Homo sapiens: one gene and its partner. The protein of the gene in region 1 purifies or fractionates together with the protein of each later gene. This does not show direct contact. Each region holds a gene or a part of one and is shown in the gene's direction. Other genes may lie near its edges.

What was found. Proteins that work in one complex are often made in the same cells at the same time.
Region 2: the proteins of HK2 (region 1) and MARCHF8 purify together in Homo sapiens (affinity purification with western blotting; 2 studies listed by BioGRID). This does not show direct contact.

The regions. Positions count from the first base shown.
Region 1 is NC_000002.12:74,879,122-74,886,148, forward strand, and holds part of HK2 (hexokinase-2), read left to right. Parts: intron 1-1,143; coding exon 1,144-1,448; intron 1,449-2,589; coding exon 2,590-2,738; intron 2,739-2,998; coding exon 2,999-3,118; coding exon of another isoform or gene 3,119-3,181; intron 3,182-6,372; coding exon 6,373-6,468; intron 6,469-7,027. UniProt on the Homo sapiens protein: Catalyzes the phosphorylation of hexose, such as D-glucose and D-fructose, to hexose 6-phosphate (D-glucose 6-phosphate and D-fructose 6-phosphate, respectively).
Region 2 is NC_000010.11:45,462,351-45,469,377, reverse strand, and holds part of MARCHF8 (E3 ubiquitin-protein ligase MARCHF8), read left to right. Parts: intron 1-5,019; exon of another isoform or gene 5,020-5,050; coding exon 5,051-5,139; intron 5,140-5,381; coding exon 5,382-6,227; intron 6,228-7,027. UniProt on the Homo sapiens protein: E3 ubiquitin-protein ligase that plays several important roles in innate immunity and adaptive immunity.

The DNA.
Region 1 (7,027 bases):
GAAGGCTACTGATGACTCGGGCTCTCCGCAGAGCTCCTCTGGCTGCTGGACACTCTCTTTGCCACCCTCTTGTATGCGTTATTGTTCCTGTCTTTACTCTTAGAATTCTTGGTGATTCCTGCAGGTGCTATGTCCTCTGCCAGGGACCACCCCAGCCCAGTGAGGGTTACCAGCTTCTCTGGCTGACCTTGGTATTAAATTGATCCTGCCCTGTCCACATTTTGATCCCTCAGGTCATAGGTACCAGAATATTCACATGTCAGCTGAGACCTGGAAGATGTCTCTTTATTGTGCCTACTTATTTCCCCATCATTTTCACCTAATAAGAATGCCAGGTCAATGTGCCTTTGTTTTCTTAACTTGTCGGTGCAGGAGGCCTCAGCCCTGAGATTCCCTCTTCCTACCCAGTGTTGCAAAAACTCGAGTGTGCACGTGAATCACATGGGGATCTTGCTAAGAGGCAGATTCTGATCAGAAGGTCTGGGGTGAGTCTGAGATCCCGCATCTCTAACAGCCCCCAGTAGGCTGCAGCCTACTCCTGCACTTGGAGTAGGAAGGCCCTGGAGACCATGGCTCCAAGTGGCCACTACCCAGAGAGTTCCTGGCTGAACACGTTGTCTTTAGCTGTGCAGACACCTTTGGGATCATTGGCAGAAACTGGCAAAAGAGAGGCTAAAGTCCAGAAGAGCATCTCTAGCTTTTAATTTTGGGTCTTTCCCAGACAGCAGCTAGTGAAATGAGTGATAGAACAAGACAGATAGGTGGCATCAGAACCACCTAATACCACAGGGCTGCTCCAGCAAAGAGGCTGATGGTACCATGTTGGGCAAGGGAGCAGTGGCCAGGGGGCCTTCTTCAGTGAGGAAGAGGAGGTCTTGTGTGGCTGCATGTAGGGGACAGTGGCTTATTAAAAGGTCTTTTCCTTTCATTGGCGGGGGTGAACCAATCCTGGGTGGTCATAGTTGATATGGTTCTTGTAGTGGTTCCTAACTTGGGACAGTGGAGAGAGGATGTTTAGGGCAGCACCCACTCCTGCAGGTGCCTTTTGGCATTTGGATTAAGGCGGTGGGCAACTGTCTAACTATTTGCACCATTGACCCTAACCATGGACACCTGTCTCTTACCCGCCCTGGGGAACTGCAGTTTTGCCAAGCGTCTACATAAGACCGTGCGGCGGCTGGTGCCCGGCTGCGATGTCCGCTTCCTCCGCTCCGAGGATGGCAGTGGCAAAGGTGCAGCCATGGTGACAGCAGTGGCTTACCGGCTGGCCGATCAACACCGTGCCCGCCAGAAGACATTAGAGCATCTGCAGCTGAGCCATGACCAGCTGCTGGAGGTCAAGAGGAGGATGAAGGTAGAAATGGAGCGAGGTCTGAGCAAGGAGACTCATGCCAGTGCCCCCGTCAAGATGCTGCCCACCTACGTGTGTGCTACCCCGGACGGCACAGGTACACGGCAGGGTTGCCACCTGGCTCACATGGTGGGCCTTTGTCCTGGTGTTGATACCCTGGGAGGGATCCCTTAGCATTAGCATTGGACATTTGAACCAGAACACGTTTCTTCAGCCGTATTACTAGGGAGTTCTAGTCTTTGATAAACTCAAACAAGGTGCTCCTCTGCAAACAGTAGTAATGGTCAACACTTATTGAATGCTTACTGTGTGTCAAAGCACTTTATGTGTATGAGCTCATTTAATCTTTGTTAACTGTTAAAAAATATTAGCAGTTAATTTTATGTATTCACCTATGTTTGACAGAAAACTGAGGCGCAGAGAAGTTAAGACACCTGCCTAAATTCACACAACTAGAAAATGTCGGAGCTGGGATTCAAACCCAGGAATTCAGGTTCTAGAATCTGCTCTTGCAATCACCACATTGGTCTGAGTCAGGGTTGGCAAACTATGGCCCATGGGCTGAATCTGGCCCACCACCTGTTTTTGTACATAAGGTTTTATTACACAGCCATGCCCATGCGTCTGCACGTTGCTTATGGTTGTTTTGCACTGTCTTGGCAAAGTTGAGTGGTGGCAGCAAAGACTGCATGACCCACAGGGCCTAAAACGTTTGCTGTCTGGGCCTTTACAGAAAAAGATTTCTGACCCCTGCTGTAAGTCTTGTAACCTCAGAAATGGTGGTCTTATTCCAATTCAGAGAAGACAGTCGATGAGCAGGCCAGTGTAGCACAGTTGTTACAGGTTCCAGAGACAGACTGGGATTTGGTCCCTGCTCTACCCTGTCCTGGTCGTATGGCCCCGGGCAAGTGATTTAACTATCAGCCAGATCCCAATCATCCTTAAGAGAGGAATGCAGTGTCTCCCTCACAGGGCTGCCTAAGGGTTGAACGAGGACTGTGTGTGAAGCATGTGGCACACTGTAATTGTCCAACAAGGGAGGGTTTTCTCAGTTTAAAAGATTTCCCTTCAGCTTCCTTCAGGGAGCTGGACTCTTCTGTTCCTTCTGTATTCTAGAATGTAATATAAAGTGGCATTTGATGGAACAGGAATGGTGTATTTGGATCGTTTTAAGTGTACTGTCTCCACATTCCCCATGTTCTGCCCCAACTTATCACTTCCCTGGGCTTATTTTCCAGAGAAAGGGGACTTCTTGGCCTTGGACCTTGGAGGAACAAATTTCCGGGTCCTGCTGGTCCGTGTTCGGAATGGGAAGTGGGGTGGAGTGGAGATGCACAACAAGATCTACGCCATCCCGCAGGAGGTCATGCACGGCACCGGGGACGAGGTGAGCAGGGCGGCGCCTTCAGGAGGGGGCCCCTGGTGGACGTCACCTCTTGCCTTCGAGGACAGTGCTTTCTCTGCTCATCTGTGACCCTGGGGAGGGCTAGCTGGACCCAGGGCTGCAGCCTGGTCTTGACTCAGGTTTGTGCCTGAGCCTGCATTTCTTCTGGGTGGAAAGAAACATTGATGTTGTGCGCAGGCCCTACTGGGGGCAGCCTGCCCTGCCCAGGGCCCCTCCCTCAGTGTCCTAACTTCTCCCTGCAGCTCTTTGACCACATTGTCCAGTGCATCGCGGACTTCCTCGAGTACATGGGCATGAAGGGCGTGTCCCTGCCTCTGGGTTTTACCTTCTCCTTCCCCTGCCAGCAGAACAGCCTGGACGAGGTAACAGCACCTTCCTGGAGGGCTCTCCTGTGGGCTTTATTGACTCTAAACAAAACCAGCCAGGTATGGAGCAGGGGAGAAAGTTGAGCTAAGACTAAGGAAAGGAGGGCGTGAGTTACCAGTAGTGGGGAGGGGCTCCTTGATGGGAATGAGTAAGTTGAGGCTGGTGGAGGTTAAGTAGGTTAGCTCAGCTGTGACAGCCTTTGGGACAACGATGATGATGCTACTCAATGTTAACAACTGCCGGGTGTGGTGACTCATACCTGTAATCTCAGCACTTTGGGAGGCTGAGGCAGGAGGATTACTTGAGGCCAGGATTTCAAGACTAGCCTAGGCAACATAGGAAGACCCCATCTCTATTGAACTTATATATATATATATAGCATTTTTAAGCACTTACTGTGTGCCAGGTACTATGTTAGGTTTCTTACCTGCATTATCTCGTTTAACCCTCACAGCAACCATATAAGAGATATGTTTGAATACCCATTCTACAGAAAGGAAGATAAGCCCCACAGAGGTGCTGGGTGTCTTGCTCCAGGTCATAATAGCTTGGGACTGGCCAAGCCAAGATTTGGATTCTGGGTTCCTGATGCCTGAGCCTGTGCTGTCAGTTATGCTGTGGGGCTCCTGAGGCCCTTGTTATGGGCTCAGGGCATTTTCATGCCATATCCTGTTGTTTGGATGCCCTGGCTCTTCTCTGGTCTCATCTTGCTTCTCACTCCTCTTCAGGTTACCTTGGGTGAATGAAGTAGGTGCATGAGGATCTGGCACTCCCAGATGTTCTGGACATGAGTGCCCCGAGAAGTGGAGGAGAACTGAGTAGGCAGTGCTGGATCTGCTGATGACTGGTAGCCCTAAGCATTAGGTATCTGGAGACTGTTTTTAAGCAGTTGTGTCTCTGTCTCAGTCATGTAGGAGTGCACGTGCACGCTGCCGGTGTGTGGTATGTTGCACATGCCACTGCTAGGTATAAAAGGCATGGCTCCTACCTTTAGATGCTTACAAACAAGCTGGGCTGATGAAGCAAGCTCAGAAAAGGAAGAGCTGCTGTTTGGAATGTGGCCCTCGTGGGATGGATACTGAAGCCCCCAGGACAGGTAGTGAGACAGATGTTAATCCGAGTGCATACCTGGGGGATGTCAGGAGGACTTGGAACAAGTCAGAAGAATGAGTTGATGGGAAAGAAAGGTGAGCAGGCTGCCCATTGTGGAGAGGGTCATGTAGGTGGGAGCAAGTGACAGAAAGAGCTGGGCCAGCGCAGAAGAGCCTACCCTAGTGACAAGGAAAGAGCAGCATTTCCCACAGGGTCCCTGCAACAGTGGCCCTCACCTTGGCTTCACTGAGTTTTGTAGATGCCTCCTTCTCCTCCTTATCTGAGAGAATTCCCCATGTGCACTAGTATAATTAAGGTTTTAGGAAGTTCTGCAATAAAAACTCAGCTTAGTCTGGCATTTCTCAACACCTATTAACATTCATGTAGTGTTAACCAGACTAGCGTTGCTTTATGCCTCATGTGGACAAATTCTTATGTACTATTTAATGGACCATTACTTATTATAACAAAGATATTAGAAACAAACTTGCTGAATAGTGAGATAGTAGTTAAATAAATTATGACCCACTTATTAGCTAGTATCAGCCACTAGTTATTTGTAATAAATTTTAATCACATGAAAAATTACTGGTGATATGACTAAAAAGTTTTAAAACTACTTTTCTTTAGAAATGGTAATCTCTTTATAAAAAAACATAAAATACAATTAATGGGATGATAAAAGCATAACCCTCCAGTGTATATCCTTCTTCTAGACTTCCTACCAAAATATTTTCAAGTAGATACTATCTTAACTTTTCATGCCAACAGGTTATATATTTATTTATATATTTGCCAGGGAAACCAGAATGTGTGTTAACTGTTTCTGTCTGAATTGTGAGATTCCAGGCCATTGGATTAGGTTTTATTCTGTGTTCCAGGTTTCTCTGAGGAGCACGTGTTAGGTCTAGAGCCGTAAAAATTAAGAGCAAATAAAGCAGAAGTCATTTCTTCCTGTGGGCTCTGGCAAGACCCTCCTGTGATGGGGAAATCCCACCAGTGCAGAGGCCCCTGGGGTTAGAGACCCCAGGGCTCTGTGGCCCCCAGCTGTGTTTCCCAGCTGTTGGGCCTCCACTTGCCTCATCAGTAAGGATCACCTGAAATTATGTTATTTGAACATCCCGTAAACACAAACTTGCGTCAAACATGTGAAGCTAACTTGTAGAGAGCTGGGTGGAGATCAGCACACACTGGTCAGCCAGCTCTCTGAGGGTATGTGCTTTGTTTTTCTGAATCTCCTGGGGTCTGAACACAGTGTGACACCTCCAGGTTGATGTGAATGAAATGCCAAGCTGATGGGCATGAATCCCTGAGCAAGGCCTGGAGAAATCATGCAAGTGGGTGGGTTATGAGCACACAGCTCATTTATGGAAGCCGAGCTCTTGGGTAAGGAGTCTGAAGCCCTGAGGCTTGTTTCCTGGTGGGCTGTGGCAGCAGAGAGGGCATCAGGGAATAAAACCCAAAGCATTTCTCCCAGGTTCAAAGCCGTCAAGCATCTGCTCCCAGAGGACCACATTGAAGGCAAGGGGCCACTGAGGATGCTGAGGAGGAGCCTGGAGTTGTTTTCCTCACTGAAAGACATGGGGTGGTGGTGAAGCCTAGCTGTCACCCAGCTGTGGGCAAAGCACTTGTTCGCCAGATGCTGGAGTTTGAAAATTAGGAGACATACACTGACCCTTCTGATGTAAAGGATAGGGACAGAGCAAACTGCTTTGCCCAGTGAGCGAACCAAGCACATAGGAAGAAGTTGCACAGCAGGGTCAGCTGCGTGGTGCTTATGAGCCCATTCACTGGGGTCGGAGGGCCTCGGAGTGCATCCTGCTTCTCTCTTCCAAGCTGTAGGCCTTGAGCAAGTCACTCCAGAGCCTCAGTTTCTTATAAAGTGGCCATAAACATGATAGATGTTCCACAAGGGTGCTGTGAGGGTTAAATAATGTAATGCATGATCTATGCTTAGCCCAGTACCTGCTACACAGTAGGTGCTCAATAAATCCAAGTAAGTACCTTAGGAACAGTTTAATTTGCGGGTGAGATGATTGGTGACTCTGGGGGATCCGTCTGACCTGTGAGGTTGAGAGCTAGAAGCACAGCTGGACCCCCAGAACTGACCTGGGAGCTCTTCCCTGATGTCCTTTCCATGCTTGTGTGTGATTTTTAGAGCATCCTCCTCAAGTGGACAAAAGGCTTCAAGGCATCTGGCTGCGAGGGCGAGGACGTGGTGACCCTGCTGAAGGAAGCGATCCACCGGCGAGAGGTAGGAGACACATGGCACGAGGTCTGATGTGTCAGCTCCTCAATGATTGGCCTGGTCTGTGTGTTCAGAAAGTGAAGGCAACAGTAAGTGTGGCTGCATGGGTTGGGAGGAAGATTAACTCAAGCGTCGTTCAGCAGTTTAGTGTGCACTGTGTGTCAAGCAATGCTCTCAGCACTGGCGGTTCAGGAGTGACCACAACAAAGCTTTGTTCTATAAAGTCCATGACCTAGTGGCAGGTGCTGTTAAGAGCTGTGAAACACACACACACACACACACACACACACACACACACACACAGTAAAGGAATAAAAGAATGGCCACTCCATAAGCAAAACAGCCATGAGGGCTGCTGGTTGCACATTTTTATGGTTATTTCTTGATTATATGCTAAACAAGGGGTGTATTATTCATGCCTTCCCTTTTTAGACCATATAGAGTTTAAAAAAAAAAAAGAAAGAAAAGGAGTGAAGTGGGGTGAGGAGAGCAGATGGAGCAAGTGTGCTGGAAAGGGGCACTGTTAAATAGCACAACTTGGGAGGGTCTCACCAAAGAGGTGACA
Region 2 (7,027 bases), on another chromosome or scaffold:
CTTCTGCAGTTTTGTTTTACTTTTTAAAATCATCAATCACCTGTTATTTTAAGAATGAATTTCTGTTTGGGAAATGTTGCTCAGTGTAAAGTGGCATTATGGTTTTGTGGGTCTCTGTGACAAGTCCATGTCCCTCCATCCAGGTTCCCTGGTCTCCCTCCTGAGTAGTCTGTGCAGCACCAGCACAGATGGCAGTGGTGCCTCTCTCTGCTTGTTTCACTTTGTGTGTTCATTACTGGACATAATGAGAACTTTTCCCATTTTTTTAATGATTGCTGATATTTCTTTCTGTAGATGGAACAGTGTTGCCTCAGCTCCAAGGTGATGGGCATTTAGGGTGATTCCAGCCGTTTGCTGTCACAAACTAGTGCAGTGTACAAACCTCTTCCCGCAGGTGTGTGAGGATGAATTCCTAAAAGAATTGCTGAGACAAAGTATATGTGCCTTTGTCATCCTGAGGGCAGTTGTCATCCTGTGGAGGTTTACCATTTGCTCTCCCACCAGCAATGTATAAGCATACCTGCTTCCCAACACTTCCGCCAACACATATTATTTGATTAATTTTCTTGGCTGATAATGGTATCTCATTGTAGTTTTAATTTGTATTTCTCATTGTGAGAGAAATGAAGCATCTTTTCATGTTTTGAGAGCCATCTGTGCATCTTTTCCCATTGTTTCTGTTAAGTCATTGATTTGCAGTACTGTAATTTGTGATGAGTTGTAAACATGAGCTCTTCTGGCCTCTTAACCATCCTTATCCAGCCTGTCTTCACGTTCCTCCTTGCCTAAAAACAAGCTCACTCAAACAGATCATTCCTGTGGCCCTCTCCCTTTTGAAATAAATCAGATGGGCAAATTTGCTTTTGTTAGGGGCCTGAGACCCAAATGTTTAAAAGTAGCTTAGCTGATGAGTGAAAAGGAGGCCCAGTTGGGGGTTGCACAGAAAATGAGGGGCGTGGGTAATAGAGGAGGCTGGGCAGTAACCTGGCAGAAGGCGCCAGAGGCCAAGGAAGGTGCGCTGGTGTCCTGCAGTGAGAAGGATGTGTGCACTATCAACTGGGTAAACACACTGCTATAGCTGCTCCAGCGACAGCAGGCACTCTCAGAAGGGAACTGAGAAAAGGGGAATGCCAGTTTCTGCCAAGGATATATGGAAAAGTTTTTTTTCCCCGTATGTTCTTTGGCAACCTTGTTAAAATCATTTAAAATGGTGAATTTGATAACAAAGCCAGCCACTAAAAGACTTGGATGTAGCAAAACAAATTGTCAAAAAGTATTTATCATTTCTAAGAAATAAAATAAACTGGGATTTAGGCTTGGATAGAAATCCAGAGGTTTGTTTTGGCATAATTAATTACAACATCTGAAGAAGGGAGGATTTTTACAAGAATTTTTTTTTTTGTAGTGAGATTGCTTTATATTCCTTTTCATGACTGGAGAGTCTGTCATTTGGCAACCCGCAAAGAACTTCAGGAACAGAGGGCCTAAGTTTTCTTGACACATTTGGATTTTTGCATGATGAACATTTGCACTTTTATTAGTAATTGTCGAGTCGTGTGTGGTCTGATCCTATGGAGAGGAGAGTGTAGGTGTTCTCTGGAGCTAGTACTGCCCCCGGCTCACACGTGCCACACTGCCTGCTGCTTTCAGAAAGAGCAGGACGGCTGGTCCTGTCCCATCTAGTGAGGTCCTGTCCCATCTAGTAAGGTTCTGTCCTGCAGAGCTCCTAAGAGGGGATTGCTGGCCTTTGATTACACTGGCTTCCAGAATCTGACCATGGAACCATTATTTGAAGCTGTCAGCTTCATTTTGTTGTTGATCAGGCCAGTCTTTTAGGTCTTTGTTGGTTGATAGATTTCTCTCAGGTCTATAGCAGCAACAAATAAAGCTCTTTAAAATTATTTTCTTGACCATTCTGCCTATGGATTGGTTCTGACCTTTGAAATGTTTGCTGTCCTTTAGATCGTGACAGAAGGAGCCTCTTCTGGGAGCTGTGAAGACCCCACAGATCTCACTGGTTTTCTTGCTTTTATTGGAAGAGTTAGCATTTGTTGAAGTTTATATTTATGTAAAATAACAATAAGTAGATTTTAAAATTTTTCTTTAAATTCTGTGATCTAATAAGAAGAGAGACTCTTTCTCTGTCATTGGGAGGCTTGATGAGGATCGGACATACCTGCTGAGAGTATCCTGTAATGTTTTCATAAGATTGGAAATGGTGAAATGAGAGCAGAAATGTAGGCAGAGGATGCCAACGCTGTTTCCTATTTCCTAAGTAAAACTGAGCAGGGCAGAATCTCCCCAGCCCTGCCAGAACTCCCTTCCTCCTTGGGTCCGCTGTCACTGTCATGCTGGCCTTGACATCTGCTACAAGTGCACACACATGGGGAACCACACAGGGAAGTGAACACATGTCCTGACGTGTGTGTGTGCCTGGTGTGGCTGCTTCCTTGATCCAGGCTTTGTTTTGTTACGAGGCTCTGCCCTCCTACCTTCAGGCCTTGCTCCTCATCATGGGCATGCAAGGATGGAATCGTTACCCCAGAGTACACTTTTTGACTTGGATTACTTGTAGTTTAGTACTGGAGTTCAGAACTTTAATTTCCCATCAGAAACCTGCCTCCCGGACCCAGGACACTGACCTTGATTGGGCACGATTTTCCAGATAAGACCTTACCTCCTCCCAACAGGGTTTGCCTTCCCTTCAGAATACAGGAAAGTACACGTGGTTCCAAGAGGACCATGCTCTTACTAAGATAAAAGGGAGGAGGGTGACTAGGTACTTTCCTCTGCTGCCATCCCTTGAAGGAAGGGGGCTTCCTTCAATGCCTCATCAGTTCCAGGGAGTATGCTTGACCCAGCAACACAGAGGAAGAAGTGACCTCATAGCAATGAGGGGCAAGCATGTGGATATTGCTGGGTATTTCTTCCTCAAAGTCTACCTGGGGACAGGTGATGAAGACGCTTACTTCTCTGCAATACACCGTGATCAGGCTTTGGTCTTCATGACACATTTTAGCCTTGCCTATGTGTGTTGAACAGAGCTGGTCATCCTCAGAAATAAAAGAAGAGAGCAATAAGTACAGGAAGGCTTTCAGTCCCAGAATAGTGTTAGGACTAAATGTCAGAGAACAGGGGGACTGTAGGAGTTTGGGGACCTTAGCATGGATACCCTCTCAATCTGCTCCCCTGTGGTATAAACAGTAAAGCCCATTGTACTAAAAGGCCTTGAGTGCTTGTCTCTGGGGCAGGTGGAGCCAGTGATGGGTGCCCCGAGAGGAGGATGCTGGAGAGGGGACAGTGTCTAAGGCAGTTGGAGAAAAAGGACAATGGCTTATGCAGTCAGGCCTAGAAGATGCAAGGGATGTCACAGCATAGTGTCCACAGGCATCCCTAGATGTCTTTCATTTTGTTTCAGGAAGAATATTGACAAAGGTAGTGATGGGAGGGTTATTTCAAGGATGCTATTTTCATGTGTCCAAGTAAACTTAAGATTCCTAAGAACTTTGACCTCTAATGCTTTTAAAGACCGTGTACCTCATGCCCATATGCACATTCAGTTAGAAAATAAATGTAGATTCTTTGGTGAATTCGAAGATGTGCTCATGGAGTGGCACAGCGTGATCTCAGTGTACACATGAAGCATGCTGATGAGAGCTTCTTGGATCTTGTTTCTTCAGGTGGACTTGCATTAAAGTGCTGTTGAATCTCTGCACTGGGAGTGGGAGCAGCCATGCGATGGGTGCCTTAATCCGAGTGCCATCCTGGCTCTCTCCAGGCTGCTTCATTTGCTGTGAGGGGTAGGGGGAGGAGGAGTTTCCAGGCAATGGCCTTATCTGTTCTGGTGGTTGACCAAGGGTCGGGGGTCCCAAAGGTGGAGTTCCAGGATGAGAGTGCACCCTTGGGGATGGTACTTAGAAAGAGTGGGGACTAGGCCTCAGCCAGGGAATGGTGGGCCAGGGTGGAGCTCCTTTGTATCAAGGAGTTAGGGCCAAGGGCCATGCAGGTGGGCCTGCAGAAGGTGGGTGGTGATATGGCCTTTCTGGTGATAACAGACTCGTGGCACTGTTTTCCTGGGGCTGTTGGGGTTGCATGGAGCAGATTCTTACTCAGGCTTACTGTCTTAAGGAGGGAAGAATGCTTTTTTATGAATACGCATAGGTCTGTGGGGCTGTGGAGCCTGGGGAATCCGAGGCTGGCGTGGGAGTCTGGGGCCCTCTAGCGGTGGTGGTGCATCCTCAGCTCAGTGCCACTCACTGTCCCTATTTCTCTCTGTCCATTTCTCTCCTCACTGCAGTGCTTCCTCTCCTTCCTAGATTTTTTTCTCTAAGTTTGACTATTCACCACCCCAGAGACTCTGTTCTATCCCATGACCTCTTGCTGTACTTTCTTTCAAATCTAAATTTTCTTGATTATTTTTCTTAATTTACAGTTTCAAGATTAGATCTGTTGGGAGCATTCTGTGCTCTACCTCAGCCCCTGGTTGAGCTATGGATTGGTGTCCCCCATGGTGACGTGGTCTGGACTCCCTTTTGTGTGAAGAGCTGTGGCAGGGCAGTGAGGTTTTGTGGAACTCAGGGAGCATCTGGCACTATGTATGAGGTTGTGAGGTGGGAGAGAGCTCTTAAATCTACCAGCCTTGTTGATCTTGGGAACTAGGAGAGAGTGCTAGGGAAGCCAGTGCCAGCAGGCCTGGAGCCTCATATTTCTTTGGCATTTGTATGATACCTTCTAGTACTTCGTTTTTTGACTTATATATGAACTAACTCAATTTAGATGCTTAGAAAATAAACGGCCACTGGACCTGCAAGAGATTAGTAGTGGTGTTCCATAGCCTTAGACATTTCTTACACTTTTATCCACAGATAAGAAAAAAATAGTGATATTTGATTTGTTTTGCCAAGGCTTAGAAGGATCTAATATGTGTTACTCGTTGAGCAGCGGGAAGCAGCAGACATTTCTAGGGTTTCTCCCTGTCACCATTCAGGAGACAGTGCACACAATCCCCTTGGCTCTTACCTGAACACTGACCACAGGTCTGTCATTGCAGGCTGGGAGTCCTCCGTCAGCATCAGCTCCGGCTCCGGTGTCCTCCTTCTCTCGCACTTCTATCACGCCATCCAGCCAGGACATCTGCAGGTAACACTCTGCTTCAGATGCTGCCATGATCAGTGTGCAGCCAGAAATAAGCATTAGTGTCTGTAGGTTCTTGAATTTCCATTTGCTTAATCAATCTGCCTTTGGTCTAAACAGTTGGCGAGTTTTATGTGTGGTTTGCTCACCAAGTTACCCATGCTAGTCTCATTTCTTCACTATGATGTCTATTCTCTTTTAAAATTGTTTTTACTTTCTGTGCTTTTATCCCACTGTTCTGCATGCAGTTCCAGTGCAGTGTTTTCTGAGTGTTGTCACCACAGTTCCGTGCAGTCTGCTGTTGTCTCGAAAGCTCCTCACTGCCAGAGTTCTCTGACACAAGGGCTCACTGTGACAGTTATCTGTAAGGACACATTACAGGCGTCAAAGAGAAATTCCTTTGGTTCAGAATGGGCCCAGGCCTTGAAGCCTGCTAAGAATACCAAAGCCAGAAGAACACTAAAGTTCTCAAGGTCCCTCAATGATGTGGGTGAGAAGGCGCAGGATACTTCAGAAAGTTTTGCCTATGTGGAAAGAACTTGTTCTGAAGGGAAATTAATACTCCCTCAAGATACGTGTCTCAGAACTAACAGGTTTCATCATAAAGAAAAAAGAACCCTGAACCACAAACCTCTTGGCAATTCCAAACATTCTTGTGTTTCATGCCTTTCTGCCGGTCGCTCAACTGCCTCAGAGGTGGAAGCTGGCAAGGGGGGCAGGCCCGGCCTGCTGCTGGAAGAGAAGGCGGATGGTGAGGCCACGTCCCGAAGCCGGCAACTGCTCCAGTACCTGTTCTCACTCTCGCACGGCTTGAGCGCCAGCAGCCTGCACAGGTTCCATGAGCTGGAGAGCTGCGCTGCTCGCCTGCACACTGCCAAGTCCTCCAGCGGGCTGGCAGGGAGTATGGGCTTCTGCTCTGACGAGATGGGAGACGACGATGTCTTTGAGGACAGCACATCTGCAAAACTGAAGAGTAGGGTTCTGCGGGCGCCCCTCTGCTCCACGGAAAAGGACAGCGACCTGGATTGTCCTTCTCCCTTCTCTGAAAAATTACCCCCCATATCTCCCGTGTCCACGTCAGGGGATGTCTGCAGGTTGGTTTGCCAGGAAGTGCCATTCTAGCCATCTCTGCTCGCATCAGGAACCTCCTCTTGCTTTAGTATGTGAAGTTTCAGGAAAATGAAGTAATAGGAAGTTGTAACCAGTTGTGGGTTGATGGTTTTCTCCAGAAGAATGGAGTATCAATATCGTTTGAAAAACTTAATTTTTATGATGTGAGTCCCAAGATAGTTTTACAAATGATAAAAGAGGAAGAAGCTGGCTGGGCGCAGTGGCTCACGCCTGTAATCCCAGCACTTTGGGAGGCTGAGGCGGGTGGATCACCTGAGGTCAGGAGTTTGAGACCAGCTTGGCCAACGTGGCGAAACCCCGTCTCTACTAAAAATACAAAAATTAGCCGGGCGTGGTGGCGGGCGCCTGTAATCCCAGCTACTCAGGAGGCTGAGGCAGGAGAATTGCTTGAACCCGGGAGGCGGAGGTTGCAGTGAGCCAAGATTGCGCCATTGCACTCCAGCCTGGGCAACAAGAGTGAAACTCTGTCTAAAAAAAAACAAAACAAAACAAAAAAAAAAAGAGGAAGAAGCTACACATATTAAAGGCCAAGCTGACTCTTCTAAACTAAAAATAAGTAGACTTTGCATAAAGAAACTGGAAGAAAGAAACTAGTATCTTCAGTTTTCCAGCCTGATGGTCCAGATTTTAAGCATTGTTGCATCTCCCAGCCTCTTTTTTAACCCTTGCTCCCTACCTACCCCCAAAAGGTGTGTGGGGACTGGCTGTTCTCCAGTAGCTCCTTCCTTCCTTCTTTTTAACTGAGGTGTAGCCACCTATGTCC